7 linked regions of the Homo sapiens genome follow. The protein of the gene in region 5 purifies or fractionates together with the protein of the main gene of each other region. This does not show direct contact. Each region holds a gene or a part of one and is shown on either strand. Other genes may lie near its edges.

Region 1 (3,500 bases), on a different chromosome or scaffold from region 5:
CAGGAGGCGGAGGTTGCAGTGAGCAGAGATTGCGCCATTGTACTCCAGCCTAGGTGACAGAACAAGACTCTGTCTCAAAAAACAAACAAAAAAACCAAAGATTTAACATCTACACTAAGAATGAATCTTCCATGAAATTGTGATGAAAGAAAAAGTAGTTCATGCTAGTTTTGATGTTGCAAAACTCAAAAAGCAGGTTACAACCCCTGTGTGCGGTAAGTGCTTAGTTAAGATAAAAAAGGTATTACATTTGTGTGTGGAAGACACGAAGACAAATGTGTTCCTACTGACAGCAATCACATTTGGTACTATCCGAGGTTTAAAGTATCCACAGGGTCTTCTGGAACATAATCCCTGTGGGTAAGGGGGAGACTACTGCCTTCAAATTAATTGAGATGGCCTATATTCCAAGTAAAACATTTGTAATAATTAGGTTCATACCAAAATTATTCCTGAAACAGATTTCAAAACAGAAAACTACGAATGTAACATTATATAAATCAGGGAAAAATGTAAAAAATAAAACAAGCCCTAAATGTTAACTGCTAAATTATTGATTTCAAGAGTACTTACATTTTGTTTGCTTTCTCTGGAGTTTCAAATTCTTTCCATAAACTATCAACCTCTTGAAGTTTCTTCTCATTTAGAACCTGTAATAAAATGTTTAAATAGTTTTATTTAAATGGTACAGGTGAGGCATATACAGCTGCATTCTTCAAATACAATTTTACATGTAAAATGAAGGTGTAGAAGCTATTTCTTTCACTAAGATAATGAACTAGTTTTCTTACCCTGCATGTAATTTTGGTCAAATTACTAGTTCGAATTGCCCATTTAACAGCTAAATGGAATTCAGATCTAGTCCAGTCAGCTGTAGTACAGTGGCTATTCAGTCTAGAATCTACCTGGCCTCAAGAGATATTCCTGCCCCAGCCTTGGGCCGTAGCTGGAGCTATGGGGTCCTAGGGGGTAGGGCAGGGAACCTTTCTTTTTATTTTTTTGAGATGGAGTCTCGCTCTGTAGCCCAGCCTGGAGTGCAGTGGAGCAATCCTGGCTCACTGCAACCTTCACCTCCTGGGTTTATGAGATTCTAGTGCCTCGGCCTCCTGAGTAGCTGGGATTACAGGTGTGCACCACTGCACCTGGCCGAGAACCTTTCTTTTAAAAGAGCCATTAATCCCTTTACAGTAAAGTATTGTAATCATTAAAAACTTTAATTTGCGCCAAGCATGGTGGCTCACATCTGTAATCCCAGCACTTTGGGAGGCTGAGGCAGGCGGATCACCTGAGGTCAGGAGTTCAAGACCAGCCTGATCAACATGGAGAAACCCCGTCTCTACAAAAAAAAAAAAAAAAAAAAAATACAAAATTAGCTGGGCGTGGTGGCACATGCCTGTAATCCCCGCCACTCGGGAGGCTGAGGCAGGAGAATTGCTTGAACCCGGAGGCAGAGGTTGCAGTGAGCCGAGATTGCGCGACTGCACTCCAACCTGGGCAACAAGAGCAAAAAACTCCATCTCAAAAAAATAAAACAAAAAACAAAAAAAACTTTTGTCTACTTTCAATAGATTATATTCGTTATTTACTGCTATGATCATCCTAACATGAAAGTATTATGGATTTCTCTAAAACTATCGTCAATTGTGAGACACATCTAGATGTGAGAAATTTTTTAAATGCAAAAGAAACATAGGGTACTTTAATCAACAATATACTTATCAACATTTAGGTATATATTCTCCAAGACTTTGAATGTCTGTGCAACACATGTTCATGCATACTTTTAGGAATCACAGTAAATGGCTTTTTTTTTTTTTTTCTGAGATGGAGTCTCACTCTGTCGCCAGGCTGGAGTGCAGTGGCGCAATCTCGGCACACTGCAGCCTCCGCCTCCCGGGTTCAAGCGATTCTCCTGCCTCAGTCTCCTGAATAGCTGGGATTACAGGCACGCACCACAACACCCAACTAGTTTTTGTATTTTTAGTAGAGACTGGGTTTCACCAAGTTGGCCAGGCTGGTCTTGAACTCCTGACATCAGGTGATCCACCTGCCTCGGCCTCCCAAAGCGTTGGGATTACAGGCGTGAGCCAACACACCCAGCCGCCTTGTATTGTTTTGAAGCAAGACCTAGACATTTAATTTTTACCTGTTAATATTTCAGTTTGTATCTATAAAATATAAAGACTTGTTTTAAAACTAGTACTGTTGTAACAACAATGCTAAAGATTGCAATGGTAATAGTTGTATACTATTTCTACTTAGAAATGGAAATTATCTTAAAATGATAAAACTTAAAATGGATTTCTGTATACAAATATTTATCATTACCCTGGCTGAAAAGAAATGATTAAAAATTTGAGACAAATAAAAACTTTGAGACAAATGTAATACAGAAAATGTAGCAATATCTCTAACTTTCTTATTTAGATGGTCTTTATTAGCAATGTTTTCTTCAAGATGTTGCAGTTGGGAACACAATGGTTTTATTTGTCATAGTAATGGTTTTGGCTGACATAACATAGTCTTTGAAGACCTTTGTGTGCTCATGAATTGCCCTGATTTTATCACATTTCCTTTGTTATTTTAACTTCAGTTTTAGAATGGTGATAGTATTTTTTAATTAATTTATTTATTTATTGAGACGGAGTCTCGCTCTGTCGCCCAGGCTGGAGTGCAATGGCAGGATCTCGGCTCACTGCAAGCTCCACCTCCTGGGTTCACGTCATTCTCCTGCCTCAGCCTCCAGGACTACAGGCGCCTGCCACCACACCTGGCTAATTTTTTGTATTTTTAGTAGAGATGGGGTTTCACCGTGTTAGCCAGGATAGTCTCGATCTCCTGACCTCATGATGCACCCACCTCGGCCTCCCAAAGTGTTGGGATTACAGGCGTGAGCCACCCCGCCAGGCCGAAAGTATCTTTTAAATATGGCAATTTTGTTACCCAAATGTTATCTTCAAATATACTTGCTTTTCAGCTAGAAAAAATGTGAATTTTACTCATGAGTCATATCCCCTATTTGATACATGTCCTCTTAAAAATAGTGAACTTCAGTTATGGTTAGCTGCATTCTCTGAACAATTTCAAAAAATTTTAATCAGTGTTTTCAGTATAGTCATGAGACTTGGTGAGGTGTCTCTGGATTCTAAAACTTCATGATATACAAAGTTAGAGCTATTAGTTTATAAATTGTTAATACCAACTCTAGGCTTTGTAGTTGTTTATTGCTTTGTGTGACTCTAAGTTTTTCTAGTTTGGGTTATTTTTACCAACATATCTAATTCAACCATGTGTGATTAAATTTATACAGGCTGGGCACGGTGGCTCATGCCTGTAATCCCAGCACTCTGGGAGGCTGAGGCGGGCGAATCACGAGGTCAGGAGATCGAGACCATCCTAGCTAACACGGTGAAACCCCGCCTCTAACTAAAAATACAAAAAAATTAGCTGGGCGAGGTGGAAGGCGCCTGTAGTTCCAGCTACTCGGGAGGCTGAGGCAA
Region 2 (4,287 bases), on a different chromosome or scaffold from region 5:
ATCTGAAAAAAAAAAAAATTTACATTCTGTAGTTTCCCAGAAATATATTCCAATTTCTAACAACTTATCATACTGTTGTCCAGTGCTATTTATTCAACAAGCTTTTGAGAGTTGTTGAGAGCGGGCACTGTCAACAACCAGGGATGCAAAGATGAATTTCATAAGCTCTGTGCTAGAGTATTACTACCTAGTAAAAACTAATAATTACAATAGAGTGAGCTATGAAAGCATTGAAAATGAAGCAAATATTTGTGCTTAGGAAAGCGTGGGAAGGCATCAAAGAGAGCAAAAAGGCAGTTTTGAGGTGTTATACATGGGACTGGACACCAGCAACAAAGGTGGTGAGGAAATTTTTGAACAGAAATGGGACACGGCCTCCTCTTAGAATTCAAGAGGTTGAATTGAAGGTTGTCTTTCCTTCATTGCACTTATTCCAATGTGTATGTTTAGATTTGTTTTTGTGATCATCAATGATGCTAGACTAAAAGTTCCTTGAGGACAAGTCTATATCCGATTTTCTTTACAACTGTATACTTCCCAGTGGTTACACATACAACATGTCAAATAAATGTGTTGTAAGCAAAAAGTGGGTAGGAGAGTTCTCAGAAGACTGGCTGCTCATTATTTATCCAATACTGTCAAGTGAGAGAGCCAGTGAATCTGTGAAAACAGAAGCATTGAATCTGGGAAAAGCATTCCTCTCACCAGAGGAGCATGCTCTACTGTCTGGCAGGGGATAATCCATTGAACTTCCTGTGGTCATAATTACCCATTTTTCTCCTTCCTTCTTCCCCCATTGGATGAATCATCTCTTTGCTCTTATTTCAACCTTTTAATTACTGATCCACCCTCTTTGATTACCTGACACAACAGGAATATCTTTCGTAACTTGAAAGGTCAGTTGACTGAATTTGTTTCATTTTGTTTAGTGATTATGCAGCCTTGCTCACTCTTGTGCATCTGTTGCAATGTTTTTCGTGGAAAACAAAGGTCTCATTTAGATTTCTAAATTACCTTGCTACAAAGCTGACTCTATACTAATGAAATTCCTCTAAAACAGTAGACGTAAGAAAGAATGCTTGCACTATAAGAAGAAACGAGTGTGAGGTCCTTCCGGATTTTTGCTGGGAAAAGATAAATCATTTTTTATGACTCCTGAATATGCCATCAGAATTGTTGGCCTTCAAGGTTTACCCCATTATTGTGGGCTAAAACGTATTCAAACGCTCGAAGACTAGAGACGCCTAAAGCCACCCGCCACCCCTAGTGTCCAGGAGGAGTCAGTAAACACCGAGATTGCTTCCCGCAGCACACCCAAGAAGGAATGTAATGTAATGCAGCCACCATGTTGGTTGTGGTTAAGTGCAGCAAACTGCTTGGCGTCACTTAGCCCTGCTGCGCAAGCGTGTTGAGAGTACGCTTCACTCCGCCCCTTCTCGTGCACGCGCCCGGAGCCCGCAACTCTCGCGAGAGAAGCGAGATTTATTCCTACGTACCGGGCCGTGCTGCTTATGGCGGCGCTGGAGAGGGGGCGCTGAGCTGTTGGGGTGAGTACGACCTCAGGGTCCAACTGGGGGTAGCAGAAACCCAGGGGAAGGGCTGAGAATAAGACCAAGGCTAACGAGAAGCCTTCTGAGTCAAGGTGGGCACTCGTAGAGCTCTAGGTGGGGAAGAATGCACCCCGATTCCCTGCCCTGGGCTTTTTCATACGTCTCCCGTTCAACTGCCTGGGCCTCATGTCAGGTCGCAGAGCTGAAACGAGGAGTTGAGGCCAGCCGGCTGCGCGTGGTGGTAGTGGTGGTGGTGACTAAAGTGGGGGGAGGGAGCGAAAATGGAGGCTCCGACAGCAGCCAAGATGGAGGCAGAGGGTGCGGGGCTCGGGCGCGGAGGCTGCTGGGATCTGTAGTCTGGCTGCTTCCCCATCTGCGGCTTGTCTGGGGAAACGGGAACTACATGTCCCGGCGGGCGGGGCGAGGGGGTGGTGGCGCGGTCCTTTGTGTGAGGTTGGAAGAGCCTGAGACCGAGAAGAGGGGCCTACTTTGACTCTGGACCCTGTAGTTTCCTGGCCGTTACCTGCTTGGGAATCTGACTACCAGTACCAGAGCGCAGTGCGGCAGTGGCGCCTTCTTTGTGTATAGACTGAGACCCTGCTCCATCTAGATATCTTAGGGGAAGTGTTTAAAGACACCTTTCCCCAGCCACATCTGGCACAGTAGTGTGGCGGAATTGACATCGTTACTCCAGTCACCTAGAGCAGGGTCTCAGCACCCAACCTTCCCCTCATTGTCTCCCCTTCGGCGTCTTGAGAAAGGGAACCAGTCCCTAATCTTTTAGGCACGTGGCTCCCACCCCTCTATCTTGGGGAATGGGCGTGCGCCCTGAAAGCTCAGTAGTGTCCTCCCTTCCACCTCCTGTAGTTCTCATGGTGCCAGCGCCTGGCCCACCCACATTGTGCAATGAACGGCCTGGCTTCGTCATTCTATGTAGAATGTTTTAGAGTTCCCCCGTCGGAGACAGCTTCAAATTTTTGCCATGCTATTTTATCAATACGAAATCTTAGTGCCAAGGTTCTTTTGCTTTAAGGTTTTCCCTTAGAAACACCCAGATGGCGGCCGTCTTGCTTAACTCACAGGTGAAGCAGAGAACGCTCCCTGAAACAGGCTTGAATCTGCAAAGAATATCTGAACGTTGTTGGGCAAGTTAATTTTCGTGTTTTGCACCTTAAATGAGTAAAAGAATATGGCGCTCTTTAAACAGTTGGGAGACAGGGCGGAGAGGGAGAATGCTCAAAGGCACTGTGGTAGTTAAATCTTTTTGAGAGGCTTAAATTTTCATCAGGCTGGTATGAACTGGCAGTTCTCAGCCACTGCTACTAACCTACTTTTTTAGAATGTAGGTTTCAAATTATAGCCCACAGATATAAGCTACTCTATACTAAAATGCTGAGTAATTTTCATTTTGAGTAACTAAAGGCAAACATTCTTGATATTGCATTGAGGAGCACTATAATACATACCTTGGTTTTCTTTTGGTACTAACCAATAATGGATATCCTTGGTGTGGGTAAGGAGGGGCTTTATATACTTCAGTAGGGATATACCTGAGTCATAAAACTTAGATAAATATTTGGCCTTCTTTTTGTTTCGTTTTAGCCCTGGGACTAAAATAAAAGAGAAGGTAATAGTTTGGTTTTGCAGCTGTTCTGGATGTTTACCATCGAGATGATTATTTATAGCAGCTGAGTTGAAAACTAAAGTATTTGAGGCACAGAAGATAGGTTTTCTTTTTTTGTAAGTACTGACTTAAGTGTGACCTTTAGCGAGTGTGGGTGAAAATCTGGTAAAGTCCTAGCAAATCAAAATTGAAAGCGTGAAAGCTGACGTGCAGTCTGGCTTTACCCTCTACCCTTATTTTCCCTTCTCCCCACCTGAAGACACATCGTGTAGGGCCATCGATTTTTGTTTTAAACAAACAAAATGCTAAAATATCAAATTATGCTGGAGCATTCATAACATGAAATTTAGTGTTCCAGTGTTTTTCATTGTACAGTTCAGTGGCACTAAGTCTATTGAAACTGTTGTGAGAGCCATACTTTCGACAAGGTAGTTAAAACATGGAAATTTTGGAACGATGTTCTTTTGGACAGATTTTTGAGGAGTTGAATTTCAGGACTGTATTGCAAAATGAGATAAAAATCTTGATCTTGTTAAGTAAACACAAAGAATTGATGTGCCTTCTTCTTAGCTTTGTCCTTGCAGAAAACAGAAGAGGAAGCACTTTGAGATCTATTTTGTAAGCTTTAATAGCTAGACTGTTGTAAGTGGTGAAACTACTATGGTGAGAGTGACTTGCTGTTAAATCCCTTCTGCCCAGTCAGGATTTTAAAAAGTCCTTTGTTTTGATATTAGAATGTTTTCCACTTGCATGTGTGGGTACCTAGTTAAAAACAACACAAAACTTTTTAATATTTTAATGTCCTTTTATGCTGAGGTAAAACAGTGTGTGGCTGAAAATTATCAGTTTCCCCTATGTTGCACATGTAAGCTATCCGTTGATTTGCAGCTACAGCCGGTACATAACCAGTTATTTGCACTTCTTTTTCTCCAATTTATTAACAACAAGCTTCTATGCTAGATACTGCCTACTTTTATTAGTGAAAATCTTTGCTCAAGACCCTTACATTTACTTCCTGTTGCTAATTGGCACAATAGTGCTTTTTTAGACCCCTGCTCAGTTTATACCTACTCTGTGGAACATGGTAGCCGCCAGCCACGTGTGGCTGTTGTG
Region 3 (3,500 bases), on a different chromosome or scaffold from region 5:
CTAGCATTTAATCCTGACTAATTTAATTAATTATTCATCCTTGTAGTTTTTCCTATTTTATTGATTATGAAACTGAGACAAAGGTTACGAGTTGCCCAAGATGCTTGGGGAGTATTAAAGATAGCCCAAAGCTTAAACTCTAACACTGTTCAGACTTTTAGCTTGCTTTTTCTTAAAAAAAAAAAAAAAAGAGTCTTTATTTTGTTATTCAGTAACTTAATGCTTGACAATTTAAAAAATACAAAATGTTTGGAACACATACTTTAAATAATTCCTTTGAAGATTTTTGATATGAAAATATATTTTAAGTTCCACATCTCAAAAATTACTTATTTTAAAATTTGGTCTTTTGTTACCCCCCTCACCCAATTTAATATTGAAAGTGCTGGCAAGTTGGAACAAGGAATTGGTGATATAGTTTGGAAGAAACAACTATTTTAAATGTCAACCTTGTTATACTCAGATCTAATATTTTTATAGGCCGAAATTCATATTGCATTAGTTCAGACATAATAAACCAGCCTCCTCACTATAGCTATGGATAAAATGCAATTAGCTTTTGGTTATTTTTAAAATGGGTTTCAGTTATTGAAGTCTCTCCACCCCCCTTATTTTTTCATTTTGTTTCTGTTAGAGAAGATTCTTCTTGGAGGTGGTTTGTTGTAGGGTGGAGGAAGGAGAGAATTCTTAAGGTATAGAATTTTGCATTTGCTTCTGGTAGCTCAGAGATTATTTGAAATCTTTGCTTTTAGTCAGTATACTTTGTTGATTCCATTTAGTTATTCTAAGATTTTCCAATTGTATTTCCTGTAAAAGTTATAGTCTTTAGACCATAAAAACTAAAACTAGTAACTGCAGATCTTTTTTTTTTTTTTTTTTTTTGAGATGGAGTCTCACCCTGTTCCCCAGGCTGGAGTGTGATGGCACGATCTTGTCTCACTGCAACCTCCGCCTCTCGGGCTCAAGTAATTCTTTGCCTCAGCCTCCTGAGTGGCTGGGATTACAGACGCACACCACCATACCCGGCTAATTTTTTGTATCTTTAGTAGAGTCAGGGTTTCACTCAAATTCCTGACCTCGTGATCCTCCTGCCTTGGCCTCCCAAAGTGCTGGGATTACATGTGTGAGCCTCCGTGCCTAGCCAGTAACTGCAGATCTTAAAACAGATTTCCCCTCTTCTTCTTCTTCCTCTTCTTCCTCTTCTTCTTCCTCCTCTTCTTCTTCTTCCTCTTCTTCCTCTTCCTCCTCTTCCTCCTCTTCCTCTTCTTCTTCTTTCTTCTTTCTTCTTTCTTTTTCTTCTTTCTTCCTTCTTCTTCTTTCTTCTTTCTTTTTCTTTCTTCTTTCTTCCTTCTTTTTCTTTCTTCTTTCTTCTTCTTCGGAATCTCACTCTTTGGCCAGGCTGGAGTGCAGTGGCACGATCTCAGCTCACCGAAACCTCCACTCCCAGGTTCAAGTGATTCTCCTGCTTCAGCCTCCCAAGTAGTTGGAATTACAGGCAGCCACCACCATGCCTGGCTAATTTTTGTGTTTTTAGTAGAGACGGGGTTTCACTGTGTTGGCCAGGCTGGTCTTGAACTCCTGACCTTGTGATCCACCTGCCTCGGCCTCCCAAAATACTGGGATTACAGGTGTGAGCCACTGCACCAGGCCTCCCCCTTTCTTAAGATACAAGGAAGTGTATCTTTTCAGTGTGTGCTCTTTATGGATGTATACAATGCAGATGAATTTAGGAAGGCAATTTCAGATTTTGAAAACTGTTGAAATTAAACTTGAACATTGAAAAATCAAATTTGCAGTTGTCTTAAGTGTTTGCATTAGTTAGATGCTTCACAATTAATAAATACTAGCTAATATAATTTTATAAGACCCTTTGAAGAGGGAATTGTGAGTTTATTTTTAAGATAAGCCAGGTTATATCAAAGATATTGTAACCAACTAGATTTTATTTGGAGACTTTGTACTCTGCTTTAGAATCCAGTAGCTCTATCAGTGTGAGCTGTTTCCATTCTTGAGTAGAAGTTTTCTCCTGTTATTTTTTCTTTGTTCTAGCTGGGTTTAAGACAGCCTTCTTTGTAGAAATTGTTGGCCTGTTTATCCTTCACCCACCCTGAAGACACTTAATTTTATGGACTGTTCTTGTACTGCCTCATCACCAGAAAAAGCAGGCTGGAAATTAACTGTCATATTCCCGCAGGTTTAATTTAACTGATTATAAGAAAGTACAGTTATTGTTCTACCTTCTTTAAATCTTTGTCCTTGATGACCAAGCTCAGGTTTTTATTTTTGCTTATTTATTTATTTTTTGGAAATGGAGTCTCACTCTGTCACCCAGTCTGGAGTGCAGTGGTGCAGTCATAGCTCGTTACAGCCTGGAACTCGCGGGCTTAAGTGATCCTTCCACTTCAGCCTCCCAAGTAGCTGGGACTCCAGGCATGTGCCACCACGCTCAGCTAATTTTTAAATTTTTTTGTAGAGATAGGGTCTCGATGTTACCCAGGTCTTGAACTTCTGACTCTGAGTGATCTTTCCACCTCAGCCTCCCAAAGTGCTGGGATTACAGATATGAGCCACCAGTCTGGGTGGGTTTTCTTTTTTAAATAATAGATTTAAATTGTTCATTACTTTGTTTTGAACATTTGTTGCACAATGCCGGAGTAATATTTTGATTAAAGTTTTTGAATATCAAGTTGAAATTTCTAGAAAACAAATTTCTGACTTGGAATGTTTCCCTGAGATAATCGATGGATGACATGTTAGAAAAATGTTCTACTATATTAGGCATTTAAAAAATAACTGTATAATATAGAGACTGTGGGAGCAACAATGGTACAAATTGCTGGTTGAGCAAATTTTAATTTTAGTTGCACACAGTAAAATGTTCTTTGGTTTCATTAAGATTAACTCTTATTTCCATGTGAATTATTTTGGATATTAATAGTGAGATGCTTTAGCATTGGAGAAATTGCTTTATAAAAACTGAAGGATCAGACTTCACCTTAAGTGTATGAAGTAGCTGCCAGACCTCAACATTCGTGCCATGAGAATTTAATTCTGAGAGCTTAAATGCGTTAGTTTCATTTTATTTGCTTTGAATGTTTTGTTTATATATAGTTTTTTTTAGAGCCTCATTTAAAAAATATATGTATTTCTAGTTTTTTTCTTCGAATATATAATACAGATTTTTGGGAAAATGTGGGTCATGTTTGAAAATTCTATCGATTGTAAAAAAAAATTCCGACTCTTGGTTTTGGTTAAATAATTAGAACAGCTATTTAGAAAAACTGAAATAGTTAATGGTTTTGGAGTTTGCAGGTGCCTGTTTTCTGAAATATTGATTATCTATCCCTCGGGCAGAGTATACGTATTTGCCAAGTTTGTATTTCTTTTTTCTATTTCTTCAAAATAAGTCCCGTTGATTTTAAAAGAATAAAGAGTTTCCCAGTAAGTACAAGTGTGGTACTTTTTCCCCCTCCACTTTGTACTTTAGTGTTAACCTTTAT
Region 4 (4,094 bases), on a different chromosome or scaffold from region 5:
TTATGGGAAATGTTTAATTTACAAATTTTGCTGAGGTGTTTTTCAGTGTTTCATGGTCTATTACTTATGACTTAATGATGGAAGTGCCAAAATGTAAAAATAAGAAAACAGTTATGTAGATTGTTTAAATAAATTGTTCAGTAAATGCAATAAATTGATCTCTAATTCATATTCAAAATCGCACGGTAGGATGATATAAAATAAATGAAGAACTATGAATCTAAATAACTAGTAGAAATCATATAGAATTTTTTAAAAAGAACAATTTTAGAATTGGCAAGAAAAAGTAAAAGACTCACCTTTCCTACGTATTCTGATTCTGAGAGCTGTTTCTCTTCTGCGGAGTCTGGACCTTGAGATAAGCTAGGGCTGAAGGCCATGAGGTCCGTCTTGGGGGGGTCCTCCCCAGAGCACACCCTCTGCCGCCTCTGCTGCGAGTAAGACCAGCTCCCCACGGCGCTGGAGCACACCAGCGTGGGCTTTCCTGGCGCGCGCGCACCCTCGGTGGGTGGCACCGAGCACCGCAGCGCAGTGTACAGCAGCACCGTGAGCACCAACAGGCTGGATACCGCGCAGATGGCGATGATCAGGTACACGTTGACATCCACCAGCGTAGCCTCTGAGCCCGCGGCGCCCACCCACGCCCGCGACGAGGCCTTGGGTGCCTGGCCACTTTCCACCAACGACACTAACACGGTGGCCGTGGCTGTCAACGCTGGTTCGCCGTGGTCCTTCACCAGCACGAGTAGGCGGTGTCGAGGGGAGTCAGCCTCGTCTAGGGCACGTGTCGTGCTGATCTCACCCGTGTATAGCCCCACGCGGAACGGGATGCGAGCGCTGCCAGTACCCAGCTGAAGCTCGTACGAAAGCCACGCGTTGTAGCCTGAGTCAGCGTCCACTGCGCGCACCTTCGCCACCACGTGCCCTGCACCCACCGACCACGGCACCAGCTCACTCACTGCGCCAGCAGCGGTGCCAGCCCTAGGCGCCAACAGTGCCGGCGCGTTGTCGTTCTCGTCCAGCACGAACACCTGCAGCGTCACGTTGCTGCCCAGAGGCGGCACGCCCGCATCCCGCGCGCTCACCTGGAACTGCAGCAGCTCCACTTCCTCGTGGTCCAGCGGCTGCAGCGCGTACACCTTGCCGCTCTCCGCGTGCACCGAAACGTAGCTCGACAACGCGCGCTCGCCCACCCGCCGCTCCACCAGCGAGTAGGACACCAGCGCGTTCTCCTGCGCGTCCGCATCCCACGCTGACACCGTGAAGATGTGGCAGCCCGGCGGGTTGTTCTCCTTCACGAATACTGTGTACTCAGGCTGTGCGAACGCCGGCGCGTTGTCGTTCACGTCGGCCACCTCGATGGACACGCTGGTGGTGGCCCACAGTGAAGGCGAGCCCCCGTCCCGTGCGGTCACCACCAGCTCATAGGCTGACACGCTCTCGCGGTCCAGGGCGCTGTCCAGCACCAACGAGTAGTAATTCTTGAAGGTGGACACCAGCTTGAAAGGGACGTGGGGCGTCAGGGAGCAGGTGACATGTCCATTCGTACCAGAGTCGCGATCCGACACCGTGATGAGAGCAATGACAGTGCCCAGGGAAGCGTTCTCTGAGATGGGAAGTGAGAGAGACGTTATTGAGACTTCTGGTGTGTTATCATTGATGTCCACAAGTTTTAATGAAATTTTACAATGTCCTGACATTGAAGGGGTTCCTTTGTCAGTTGCAGTGACCTGAATCTCGTAGGACTTTGCTTCTTCATAATCTAATTTTCCCTTAGTTCTGATTTCCCCTGAGATGGGATCTATGGTAAACTTAGTCTGTATAGTGGAGGACACATCACTACCGAGTGAATACACAATCTCGCTGTTCGGTCCTTCATCTGCATCAGAAGCGTTTAACTTAACCACTAAGGTCCCATTTGCCGTATTCTCTAACAATTTTACTTTGTAAACTGATTGGGCAAAAGTTGGTTCATTGTCATTTACATCTAATACCTTAATAAGTATTTGAACGGTGCCCGTGAGCTCAGGTTTGCCCCCATCAGTAGCCACCAGTAACAAATTAACCTCAGCAGTTTCCTCTCTGTCCAGCGATTTCCCCAGCACGAGAGACAAAGATTCGCTTAGTTCATCATTTGCCTGTATATCTAGGAAGAAAAACTCACTGGAGCTGAGCTTGTAGGAGAGAAGAGCATTTACTCCTATATCTGCATCAGATGCTCCCTCTAGAGGAAACCGAGAATCAAGCAGCCTTGATTCGGGAAACCGGATAGTCTTTACTGTCATTGGAAATATTGGCGGGTTGTCGTTAATGTCCTTCACCTCCACTTCCACATGGAAAACCTGCAGCGGCCTGTCCACGATCACCTCCACGTGGATGCTACATTCCGCGCTCCGCCCGCACAGCTCCTCCCGGTCGATCCGAGAATTCACAAACAAAATGCCATTCTGCAGATTTACCTCCAGAAGGTCCCCGTGTCTTTTGGACGCCACCCGGAACAGGCGCGGCACCAGCTCCTCCAGCTCCAGCCCCAGGTCCTGCGCGATGCGGCCCACGAAGGTGCCGTGTTTGGCCTCCTCGGGGACGGAGTAGCGGAGCTGGCCGCTCCCCACCTCCCAGGCTGCGAGGAGCAGAAGCGAGAGCAGCCGTGTCCAGGCCCCTCGGCCCCTTCTGATAGAAGACGCCATTACCAATCCTCAATGTTTTGATCAAATTAGAAGAGCATGTTTTGCAAAAATTTAAATATTCTAGTCTCTGTTAAAGTCCTGCTGCTTCTCTTATTCCTCCGCTTCTCTGAAGTAACAAAGGGGCTCTGGGTATTTTCCTTCCTAGAGAACACTCTATGGTGGACAGCGACATCATGTGGCTAAAAGGAAGGCTCTACTGTTTATTCTGTAGATTTAAAACTAGTCGATTTTCTGGTTTAAGTTTACTCATAGCTTTCATCTTGGAAAAAAATAACTATTTTAAGCCCTAAAATATATTACCTTTTTACCCTTTTTTACTCTGGTTAAAAAACACACAACATAATATTTAAAATTACCATATTAACTATGATTAAATGTACATTTCAGTAATGTTAAGTATATTCACATTGTTACAAATTTTTCATCTTGGAAAACAGAAACTCTATACCCATTAGACAACAACTCCGCTTTTCACCGTCACTCCAGTCTCTGGTAACCACAGTCCTATTTTCTATTTCTATGAATTTCACTACTTTAGATATTTCGTGTAAGTGGACTCGTAAAGTATTTGTCTTTTTGTGACTGGCCTATTTCACTTAGCACAATGTCCTCAAGGTTCATCCATGTTGTAGCATGTGACAAGATTTATTTCCTTTTTAAGGCTGAATACTAGTCCATCGTATGTATACACCACGTTTTGTTTATTCATTCAAGCATCCGTGGATGGTTCCTCAAGGTTCATCCATATTGTAACATGTGACAGGACTTCTTTCCTTTTTAAGGCTGAATAATAGTCCAACATATGTATACACCACGTTTTGTTTATTCATTCAAGTATTCGTGGACATTTGAGTTGCTTCCATTTCTTGACTGTTGTGAACAGTGCTGCCATGAACATGGGTGTGCATATATTTCTTTGAGACCCTGCTTTCAATTCTTTTGGATATATTAGCATTTTTCACTATTTCTTCAAATGAAGAACATAGTAATCAAAGGTATTTTAGTCCATTGAAAATATATGTGTATATATACTGTTGTTTTGTGATTTAATTTTGATTTTTGAATTGTTTGCAAATGTTTTGAAATTAATAATTTATTTGTTTCTCATTTGGATAATGTACTATTACTTTAGAATATTCCTTTTCCATTACATTTAGACTTTTATGCAAGAACAATACAATCGATCTCTTTTTTTGTGTTAATTACTTGAGAATATCTTCTTTTGTTAATTTTTAGCTGATCCCTTCACAGTAAAAAAATGAAAATAGAATAAAGATAAGATGAGGATGAAATAAAATGAATCAAGGAGTGGGATAGCATACAAAATCCATAATAAAGGGTCACCTTCAGTTACTCTAACCATGTCACCAATTTTGTTTTCAGCTTCCTAGAGCAAAGAGAGAAGTA
Region 5 (3,500 bases):
CTACCATTGTAAAAGAATACCATTATCAGATTAGATTTTAAGCCTAAAATTATACATTACTATTTCTATTTACTTGATATGAAGTTTGAAATTCATGTTTGTTCGGGTGCCATTGGAGTACATATATAGAAAAGGCTCAACTTAATGTATAGCTTTCAGTTTGTCACAGGCACACTTAATAGAGCTAAGTACTAGAGCAAAGTTCTTCCTGTACTTGCAGTAAAAAACAAAAAACAAAAAAACCACAAAGATAGCAGTGATGGACCTTTAACCAAAGAATTCAGTTACAACTGTGCTCAAACTTACTGCAATTTTTATTAGCACTCAAGAGAGCCAATGCTTTACTTATCTTTTGTGCACAATGACTTACTTTACTTTTGTAAGCACTATGTCATTACGAAGCTATTTACAAGGTATTTAGAAAACAAAATTAATTCCTTAAAACCATCTATAAAATCCACTATCATACTAAAAATTAAAAAACAAAAACAAAAGTGAAGTCCACCCAAACTTTGAAGAGCTGGGCTTTTTTTTGTTCCTTTCCCTCTATTACCTGACAACATAGCAGTAATAGATAGGACCTCATTAGAACAGTTGTAGTCACAACTTGCAATAACCATTTTTGCGAGCTGTGGATCTAGAGGAAACTCTGCCATCATGGATCCCAATTCAGTCAGATCTCCATCATCATTTAAAGCAGCCAGGTAATTCAAAAGTTCCAGGGCTCTCATCAGAGTTTCAGGAGCTAGTGGTAAAAGACAATCTATTAGACACGGTGCCTTAAGCAAGCAAAAATGTGACAAAGTACAAACTATTATAAGCAATCTCATTTTTCATTTTGCAGTGGACCAAACTCAAACTCAAACTGTCATCCAATTCAATTATACAGATCTAGCAAACAATGAATCATAAAAACATTGCAAAATTTTCCTGTAGGCAAAACTGTCTTCTTCCGAAATACATTAAATAATTGCTAATTCATCAATGTGTTTATCAAACTGTTTTTCCCCAAAGAAAACTTAGGAATTCTCACATTTTCATGCCCAGAGGATAATTCAATTTACCCAAACCCCCCCATAATAACTTTTGAAGAAAAAAAAAAAATGTGCTCATATAACTGTCACCTTTTTTAGTTTTAATGCTATCATGTAAGACTTAATCTTGATGCATACTGGATGGAAAAAGCAAAATGTATTTAATACATATATTAAATAGGATGGAGAAAAACACTAAGAGTCAATTTTGGTTAAAAGATCTGATAAAAATGTGTTTTGATAAGTCATACCTGGTGGATCCATAAAATCAAAATGTACCAAGTCATCAATACCAAGTTTCTTCAATTGTAACACAACTGATCCTAAATTAGAACGCAAAATCTCAGGATAGGTGTTATCCTAGCAAAGAACAAAAACATTTATTGGTTATGTTAAAAATGCCTCAGTCTCCTCGTTCCAGAAAACAAAAATCTGCTGCCTCCTGAGCTATTTGTTTTGGCATTACTTCTACACTGTCTCAGTAGAGATAAATACTTGTAGGCTAGACTAGAGAGAAACCATTTTTCTCCAACTATCTTTATAGTATTCAGTGTTTGCTACTGTCCATAAAACTCGCAACTGCAGAAAGAAATTCGTATAGTAGTCTTCACTCATCTGAACTCGCAATTTCCATGGTTTCAGTTAAGCAGTGTCAACAGAAAAAATTTTAAAGATTCCAGAAAAAATTCATCAAGTTTAAATTGTGCACCATTCTTAGTAGTATGCTATATACACTATACACCCATTTGTCACTTAGCAACCATCTGTTATTAGATCAACTTTTGCAGTATCACAGTGCTTGTGCTCAAGTAACCTTTTACTTAATAATGGCCCCAAAGCGCCAAGAATATTGATGCTGGCAATTTGGATATGCCAATGAGAGGCCCTGAAGTGCTTCCTTTAAGTGAAACGCTGAAAGTTAGTAAGGAAAGAAAAAAAGTTGAAACCTAGTAACAAAAGAGCAAAAAAATCACATCTAAAGAAAGAATGCATCTTCTATCAGTGAAATTGTAAAGAAAGATATTTATACATAGTATATGTAAGTAAGGTTCAGCATATTCCAGTTTTTAGGCGTGGGAGGGGGAGGGTCTTGGAATGTATCAGCCTGGAATAAGGGGGTGTACGACTATCTAAGTTAATTACACCATACATTTCACTCCTGGAAAAGCTAAGGAGCTTTTAATCCTAAAAGGCAAGATTAAGTAAATAAGGCAATGTTCTTCTGGTAAGATAATTCAACCTAACATTTTAAACATATCGGCAGGAAACGACAATACCCCATACCTGCATTTCTGTTTTATAAGCTTTCTCTGTGTAAAGTCTGAAGCATTTTCCAGGTCTGGTACGTCCAGCTCGACCAGCCCTTTGCTGAGCTGAAGCTTTACTAATAGCTGTCACCAAAAGGGACTCAACTCTGATTCGAGGATTGTAGACCTATTGGAATTGAAATAACACAAGAGTCTTTCTTCAGTCAAACACAAAATTGTGATGCAACAGAAGTATCCAAAGCCCACAGTTAATTCCAAAATAAATAAAGAAATATCGATAGCCATAAATCATGCTGCTACAATAGACAACCCACCATCCTGAACCTTAAAGTTCTTTCAGACATTCTAATTCGATCATCTGAAAGACTCTAACATGAAAAACTTCTTGTCAAACACACAGCTTATATAATCCTTACTCCTCCTAATTTCAGTTCTATCAGGCTGACCTTGTTCCTTGCTTTTTATATGCTGGGCAGTCAAGGATTCTGCCCGAAAAGAAACCTTCACTTTCAAAACTCGACGGTCTGAGTACTATTACTCTGTTACTGTTTAATGAAAAAATTTCCATCAATAACAAAATGTAATCAATTTATCCAAAAGATATTTGAAAAATAAAACGTATTTATTGAATAGCCACTTCACCTGCATTTCACTTCATTTAGTATACAGCACTGTTAAACTAGAGGAGTAACATAGTACTGTTTTCAAATAGTGTGCCTAGTTGACAGCAGTAACTCTAATAATGTTGGGAGAAGTGACTGAACTGCAGGGATAGAAATCCTGTACTTTATTACTAAACCCATACTGTTAAATGAATATACAAGCCAAAACACCCACCGTCACTACACTGAAACAAAGAAAGCAAAGCAACTCTAAAAGAAAAAAAAGCCTAGAATTACATATTAAATACTGTCTTAATTTCTGAGAGCCAGCCAAAACATAAAGGGTTCATACAGCAGAAATTTGCAAATAAAAAAAAAGATAGGAAAATAATTCTGAAAGGTAAATTTTAGCCATTAAATGAATTGGTTGTAAGTACTGTTAAACCAACTCTAATTTATAAAGTATCCACTAAATATGTACCTTCTGTTTCGCAAATCCAGGATCAATCACAAACACCACACCATCTATTGTCAAAGACGTCTCTGCTATGTTAGTTGACACAACTACCTGTTAAGAAATAGAGTATATAAATTAT
Region 6 (3,500 bases), on a different chromosome or scaffold from region 5:
TCAAGGATTTCTGGCTTGGAGCACTTTCAGATAAAAGAAAAAATGTAGGCACACATGGGAGTAGTACTACGTTCCACTAGTGCCACCCTGCAAAGTTTCAATAAGCAAAAGGGCTAGTTCCCTCAACAAATTACTTCCTTAGGTAAAAGAAAGACAAGTGCTAAACTGCAAGCTATGGCAGTGTAAGTAAGACAGATAACACAGGAAGCAGGGTTTTTTTCAACTGTTAAGTTACAGGGTAGCTCAAATTTCTGCCTTGAAACTCTGTGCATGAATACAGGGATGGCTCAAGCCCATACCAAAAGTTATTTGGAAAGCTAGTGCCCTAAGGCAGAAATAAACACACCATCCCTAGTTAATACACTCTAATGTGTATTAGAGTCATGGGGTTGGGGGTTGGGGGTAATCCACACTCTTCACATGAATTAAATCAAGATCTCTGATGAAGTTTGAGTTCTTTCTCCTTTAATTCTCTCTGACAATTTTATGCACCCAGGGTACAAAACTACTTCATTTTAACATCAATATAACACTTACATCATAGGACTCATTAATGAAAAGGAAAATCCTGTATTTTAATACTATCTGAATGAGGCTTCACAGTTTCTAAAAAATGAAACACACCAATGTGTACATAAAATTGTAAATGCATCAGATTTGGTTATACTAAGAATTTCAGATTCATTGTTGAAAAGAAAAATAATTTCTTTTAATTTAGGCCTAACAAAAAACCCCATAATTTTTATCACAACTCAAACACTAACATGATGCTATATATGGCCTGAGAACTCAAACCCATTAGAACTTCTGATACAAGCTTCCCTACAAGGACCTCTCAGGCTAAACACAGACCCTAACCCAAGTTCAAAGCAAAATTAACAGGATATCCACAAGCAAGTTAAGCCACCTTGTTATACAGGCTTACTGTTGAATGTTTCTTAAAGAATACAGTGGTTTTTAGATGTGAAACACTGCTGCTATAAAATTTAACAATGTTGCACCCGCAGTAGTAAAAAGAATGTTTAAGCAATTTCTCCTTAAAGAAATGGGAGGGGTCTTACTATGTTACCCAGCCTCCCACTCCAGCTTCCCCAATAGATGGGGCTGCAGGTGTGCCTCACTGTCAAGTACTTTAGCAGGTTTAGTAAGCTATGGCACTTCACATTTCTTTGCTGACATCCATGTTTCCATCAATAAATTACAAAGCTCTTTTAATGCTATCATCTTATATTATTAACACCCAACACAATGCCCTGGGAAATAGCAAGCACTTAACACTTCTTAAAACTGACCTCTACCAATTCTTTTAACACTTTTTATTGTTATCTTATTAAAAGAAATGACTCCCAAATATGATATTTTTAATAAATAGTTCTTTAGGAAAAAAAGTACTGCCCCCGTGCTCAAATTGTATTCTTTATACTTGGCAACCTTAAAGTGACTCATATTTTTTTTCCTACTCATTAATGGCATAGGAATGCTCCAATTATTTTGGCTATATCAAAACCTGTTAAGTGATGGTAGGGTACAGATTAAATATGAATTTGAATACTGTGAATAAGAAATATAATTTCATCTCTCTCCACTTCAAATGGCCTCCTTTAGATGGGTTTAAAACAAGTTTTTGATGGTATCTGGGCCCACAATTACATTCTTAACATTTTTTCGATTAAAATTTTTTTTTTTTTGAGATGGAGTTTCACTCTTGTTGCTCAGGCTGGAGCGCAATGGCACGATCTCGGCTCACCGCAACCTCCACCTCCCAGGTTCAAGCGATTCTCCTGCCTCAGCCTCCCAAGTAGCTGGGATTACACGCACACGCCACCACGTCCGGCTAATTTTTCTATTTTTAGCAGAGATGGGGTTTCACCATGTTAGTCAGGCTGGTCTTGAACTCCTGACCTCAGGTGATCCACCCGCCTCAGCCTCCTAATAAAATTTATCTTAATAAGATAATATGTTAATATAAGATAGAGGACTGATGCCTGAAATTAATTTTTGTGCTCTAAAATTCTGTGGAAGTACTGCTTCCAAATACGACACATATTTTACTCCGTATCTCTTTAGAATTAATATAAAGTAGGGAGAAATGAGGAACAAGATAGGGTAAAGTGAGTCCTGCATGCCACTTCTGTCCTCCAACTAAGAGCGGTGGTGTAGTTTTTAACAGTTCTTACGTGTCCTCTGAGGGCTATTTCAGAATCTTCTAGACTACAGAGAGAAAACCTGAGATTTCCGTTGTTCACCTAAGGGTCTGTAGAGAATCTTTTTTACATGAAGGCCCAGATTCTTAACAAGGTATTCATGCCTACTAACGTACGAGAACTTCAGGTTTAGGCCACTGATATCAGCCTTCCAATTTCCACCTTAATAGTGTGCTAAGTGGAGAATTTCGAGCTCATAAATAAAAGTATCGCCAACCCACAAAAGGAGGTGTGTGACAAAGACGACATTAACCTGAAAACTTGACTGCTGACCTCATGTGCCCCCTTCTCACTATGTAAAGAAATATACAATAAAATGGTGCATCAATTAAAACCATTTTTTCTTTAAAGGTGCACTAAACTCTTTCCCTTACCTAATATACTAATTTATACTTATATAACCATTAAAGTATCCATTTTGGGTCACTGAAAAGTTACTAATGAACTTCAATGTATCTCCGTATTACAGCAGCCTTAAGTTACTGCATAACTGTGACATACTTCACTGGGATCATCACCTGATAAGCACTTTGCTGGGCAATCCCACTAAAAGAAAGCATGTGAAGATCTTACAAGTTACTTGGCTAAATCAGCAAACTCCTGATCAAGTGGTAAAGGAGAGTCACAACTTGGGTTCAAGTTCTAGTTCTGACATTGGCAGTATGGCTTGGGCATACAAAAAATACCTATGTAAATTTCAGTTCACGAACTTGTAAAACAGGGTCAAAAACATTTTTTTCCTCCAGGTTTGTAAGGATTAAGGTACATTTAGAAAGCAACTCACACACAATAGATATTCAAACAATGCTGCATTTCCAGTACGCATTTCAGAAACAACCAGAATCAAAATAACAGTTTAACAAAGAGTATATGTGGGGTTCAACTTTCAAATACCTGCAAAGCCATCATGCTGTAGAGACAGTTAGAATATCACCTATTGTAAAGATAGTATTTCTATTTCTCAGTAAAATTACAGGCCAGAAATTCTGGTTTAAAAGAAGGAATAAATAGATGGACTTAACAATGACAATGCAGGAAACCTCCTAGAGCAGGTTGTCATTGAAATGTCTGTCATAATCCCAGAAATGTTTCCCCAAAATAGGCATTCAGAACCGAAATGAAGAGCTTCAGTAGGTGTGGGTGAGGTTCAGTCATACATGTATTTTAAAGCACCTCATATTCTACAGGAGAGAAGTTGTTAAACTTAACCTGTCAACTGGTGACAGGTGCTATAGAAAAAAAGTAGTGTTAAGGAGAATAAAGCAGCAGCAGAGGTGCTTTATTTTACATAGGGTG
Region 7 (3,500 bases), on a different chromosome or scaffold from region 5:
GGTGATCCGCCCATCTCGGCCTTCCAAAGTGCTGGGATTACAGGTGTGAGCCACCATGCCCGGCCAAAGCTGTGTCCTTTGTTACTCTGCCTCCATCCTGACCCCACATGCCGTCCATCCACCCCAGCACTCCCTAAGCTGAGGCTGCCATCATCCCCTGCAGGGATTCTACGAGCCTCCTCTAAAAGCCTCTCTCCCCACCACCCGCCATTGTTGCTTTTATTCTGCACACAGTAGCTAGAGTGATCTTTCTAAAACTACAGCCTCACCACATACAGCTCACCTGCCTGATACCTTCAGGGATGCCGGCTGCCCACAGGATAAGGTTGCCACGTCTGGCTGGCTCTGATGCTAGGCCCTCTTCTCCCCATCCCCCTGCACAGGTTGCCACCATCTCCTCAGCTCTCCTCCCTGGCAGCCAGCACTCCTCTGCACTCCCATCTGCCCAGCCCACTGGCAAGGCGGGAGCTTCTCACCTGCGGCTTGATGTTCACCTTCTCCACGGCGTTCTCGTTGAGCCACTTGACATCGATCTCCACGTCAAAGTGTCCAATGTTACACACAATGGCATCATCCTTCATCTGCTCAAAGTGCCTGTCAGGCAGCCCAAGACCGTGGGAGATTGTCAGGGACAGAAAGCTGTCCCAACTCTGCCCTCCTCCCTCACTCCCCGGGACCCCCCATCTGGCACCTACCGGCCAAGGATGATGTCAATACAGCCTGTGGTGGTGACAAAGATGTTGCCCTCCTGACAGGCCTCATCCATGGTGGTCACCTCATAGCCTGTGCAGAGACAGTGGCTGTGGGTCATCTACGGTGGCCTTGCCCCTCCCTCTGGCCCCAGTGGCTGACAACCAACCCTTGCCCTATCCTACCCTCCATGGCAGCCTGCAGTGCGTTGATGGGGTCAATCTCGGTGATGATGACGCGGGCTCCGAAACCCCGCAGGGCCTGGGCACAGCCCTTGCCCACATCACCATAGCCTGCTACCACCGCTACCTTGCCGGCAATCATCACATCTGTGGCCCGCTTGATGCCATCTATGAGGGACTCCCGGCAGCCATAGAGGTTGTCAAACTTGCTCTGAAAGGAAAGGGGGTAAGGAGACAATAGGGGCAGGCAAGGCCCTGGGGCCAGGACAACTTGGCCTCAGAGTATTCTGAAGAGCCCAGGCATCATGGGCCCACCAAGCATCCCGGCCTGGGCTGAACCCCTCCAGCACCCAATGCCCCCACAAGCCCTTCACCCCGATCGGCTCAAAGAGCTTCTCTCTAATCTTTCTCTGCCAGTGTGGAGCCTTCCTAGGCATCAGTTACTAGGAGAGATTGCCCGGTCAAAGACCTTGCTTAACTTGAAAGCTCTTCTTCCCAAAGCCATAAAGCTCCTAACACCCAGCTCTGACACCCCTTTTAAACGCACTCATTAGCCTGTCTATAACCGCTTTTGCCCCCTCAAATGAGGGCTTCATGTCCCTAATCTCAGCCTTCCTGGGCACTCTTCTTCAGAGGCCTCGTCCTGAGCTGCAGCCACTGTAGCGGGAGCTGTCACTGCCCCTCGGCTCACCTTGGTGACGGAGTCATTGACATTGATGGCAGGCACCTTGAGGATCCCATTGGCCATCATCTTGTAGAGGTTGTGGACCCCAGTCGTGGTCTCCTCAGAGATGCCTCGGATGCCTAAACAAGAGGGGACAGGACAAGCCTCAGAGATGCCACACCTGTGCTCATGCAAATTCCTCATCTTTACCCCCTAAAGCCATTCCTCTTTCTGGGTTCCCATCTCTGTGACTGATCCCACAGGCCCCCCAATCACCCAGACCCGCGTGAGGGAGGAGTCCCCAACGCCCTCCTACAGGGAAGCCACCACCAGGCCTAGTGACTCTGCCTCCGAACAACTCCCAGCTTCTCTATTCTCACTGCCGCTGCTCTAGTCCGTGACCCTGTCGCTTCTTCCCAGTCTCCCTACCACAACCCATCCTCCATGCAGCAGCCATTTCTAACATGTATCTTCTCAGAGAAATCTTCTCAACGCCCTCCAGTTATTTCCCCTTGCTCTGCAAATCAGGTCAAACACTTTTCTATTGGCCTATTAGGCCCTGACACATCTGGTCTTCACGAAGTTCACACCATACCCGCAGTGAAGGCTCCCTTTGCTCACTGCTATCCTGTGGGCCTCTTTTCTGTTTCCTGAACACTCCAGCCATTCCTGCCTCAGGGCCTCTGCACTCTGCGTACCTGCTTTGAACAAAGCTGGCTCCCTCCCAGCTATTCCCAACCATGGCCCTGTCTGTGCCTGCCCTTGGGCCATCAGCTCAGCTGCCCTAGCCTCGCACCCTCAGAAGTCAGGAGGCCCCAGCATGAATGCCAGAGCCTGCCATCCTCCCATCTTCCAGATCCTGCTGCTTGAGGTGATGGGAGTCCTGCCAGGCCTGCGGCCATCATGTGGGCAAACAGGCCCCACCCAGGCCACCAGCACCCAGCCCACCTGCCCCGCCCTGCTCACCTGGCAGAAGCTGCGGGTACTTGGTGTGGATGAGGTTGGTGAGGTCGCCCCCGTCGTCCAGAATCATGTTGAGGGGCCCGTCCTTGAAGTACAGGGTCTGCTCAATGCACCACAGGTACTCCTCGTCCGTTTCGCCCTTCCAGGCATACACTGGAGGGTGAGTGGCACATCAGGGCCTGGACTTCCCAACTGGTACCTGCTCCAGGGAACAACTCTGGCAGAGCCAAAACTACCTCCTTCCCAACTCCCATCCCCAGCCACCTCCGGCCCCTCTGAAAACTCAGCAGTGGTCAGGACACAACTTGGAGCCAGATAGATCTGAGTTCAAACCCTGGCTCTGCCACTTGCCAGCTGTGTGACCTTGGGCAAATCACTTCACCTCTCTGAGCCTCAGTCTTCTCCTCTGTAAATAGGGCTCACAATAGTATGGATTAAGTGAGACAGAAGCCATGTACAGCCCCCCGCCCCAGATATAGATATCAGGAAATCATTCTTTCCTTTCCCATCCCCTTCTGCCTGGGCGCCAAGGACTGAGGCATCAACCCTGAGTGACCAGGGCTTGATACCCCACAACGCCTCCCCCTCAGCAGGATCCACACGGCAGGATCCAGGGTTTGCTCTGCACTGAAAGGACTGGAGCACTAGCAGCCTCTGTGTGGGGGAATCTCAGGCAAAGTCTGGCCAAAAAATGACTACGAGCAGCTACCATGTGTGGGGTACTTGCTTTCTGCCAGACATGACTCTAAATCCTCCATACCCCATCTCATTCTTCCTCATAGAAACCCTGTGAGGCAGCCATGACCATTATCATCACTTACAGATGCCCAGAGAGGAGCTAAGACGCACTTGGGCCACTCTAAATGAAATTCCAGAATAGACACCAGAACTGAGGGCTACTGACCACCAGCCCACACTCCTCCCATGTGGCATGACTAGGGCACAGGTGTGGGGTTCCCAGGAGCCTCTTGTGAGCAAAGGACGCTGGCCAAGCAGAGCCA

Evidence for each region.
Region 1: the proteins of DHX15 (region 5) and NOP58 fractionate together in Homo sapiens (co-fractionation; 2 studies listed by BioGRID). This does not show direct contact.
Region 2: the proteins of DHX15 (region 5) and CSDE1 fractionate together in Homo sapiens (co-fractionation; one large-scale study listed by BioGRID). This does not show direct contact.
Region 3: the proteins of DHX15 (region 5) and USP3 fractionate together in Homo sapiens (co-fractionation; one large-scale study listed by BioGRID). This does not show direct contact.
Region 4: the proteins of DHX15 (region 5) and PCDHA2 fractionate together in Homo sapiens (co-fractionation; one large-scale study listed by BioGRID). This does not show direct contact.
Region 6: the proteins of DHX15 (region 5) and SRSF11 fractionate together in Homo sapiens (co-fractionation; one large-scale study listed by BioGRID). This does not show direct contact.
Region 7: the proteins of DHX15 (region 5) and AHCY fractionate together in Homo sapiens (co-fractionation; 2 studies listed by BioGRID). This does not show direct contact.

What each region holds. Positions count from the first base shown.
Region 1 is NC_000002.12:202,272,263-202,275,762, reverse strand, and holds part of NOP58 (nucleolar protein 58), read right to left. Parts: intron 651-3,500; coding exon 574-650; intron 1-573. UniProt on the Homo sapiens protein: Required for the biogenesis of box C/D snoRNAs such as U3, U8 and U14 snoRNAs. Part of the small subunit (SSU) processome, first precursor of the small eukaryotic ribosomal subunit.
Region 2 is NC_000001.11:114,755,185-114,759,471, reverse strand, and holds the start of CSDE1 (cold shock domain-containing protein E1), read left to right. Parts: upstream 1-1,487; 5' UTR 1,488-1,547; intron 1,548-4,287. UniProt on the Homo sapiens protein: RNA-binding protein involved in translationally coupled mRNA turnover.
Region 3 is NC_000015.10:63,511,093-63,514,592, forward strand, and holds part of USP3 (ubiquitin carboxyl-terminal hydrolase 3), read left to right. Parts: intron 1-883; exon of another isoform or gene 884-3,500. UniProt on the Homo sapiens protein: Deubiquitinase that plays a role in several cellular processes including transcriptional regulation, cell cycle progression or innate immunity.
Region 4 is NC_000005.10:140,793,558-140,797,651, reverse strand, and holds the start of PCDHA2 (protocadherin alpha-2 isoform 1 precursor), read right to left. Parts: upstream 2,801-4,094; 5' UTR 2,688-2,800; coding exon 300-2,687; coding exon of another isoform or gene 213-299; exon of another isoform or gene 175-212; intron 1-174. UniProt on the Homo sapiens protein: Potential calcium-dependent cell-adhesion protein. May be involved in the establishment and maintenance of specific neuronal connections in the brain.
Region 5 is NC_000004.12:24,539,555-24,543,054, forward strand, and holds part of DHX15 (ATP-dependent RNA helicase DHX15), read right to left. Parts: intron 3,473-3,500; coding exon 3,386-3,472; intron 2,469-3,385; coding exon 2,319-2,468; intron 1,395-2,318; coding exon 1,286-1,394; intron 746-1,285; coding exon 554-745; intron 1-553.
Region 6 is NC_000001.11:70,224,380-70,227,879, reverse strand, and holds part of SRSF11 (serine/arginine-rich splicing factor 11), read right to left. Parts: intron 1-3,500. UniProt on the Homo sapiens protein: May function in pre-mRNA splicing.
Region 7 is NC_000020.11:34,289,856-34,293,355, forward strand, and holds part of AHCY (adenosylhomocysteinase), read right to left. Parts: intron 2,653-3,500; coding exon 2,503-2,652; intron 1,677-2,502; coding exon 1,564-1,676; intron 1,084-1,563; coding exon 876-1,083; intron 784-875; coding exon 696-783; intron 595-695; coding exon 477-594; intron 1-476. UniProt on the Homo sapiens protein: Catalyzes the hydrolysis of S-adenosyl-L-homocysteine to form adenosine and homocysteine. Binds copper ions.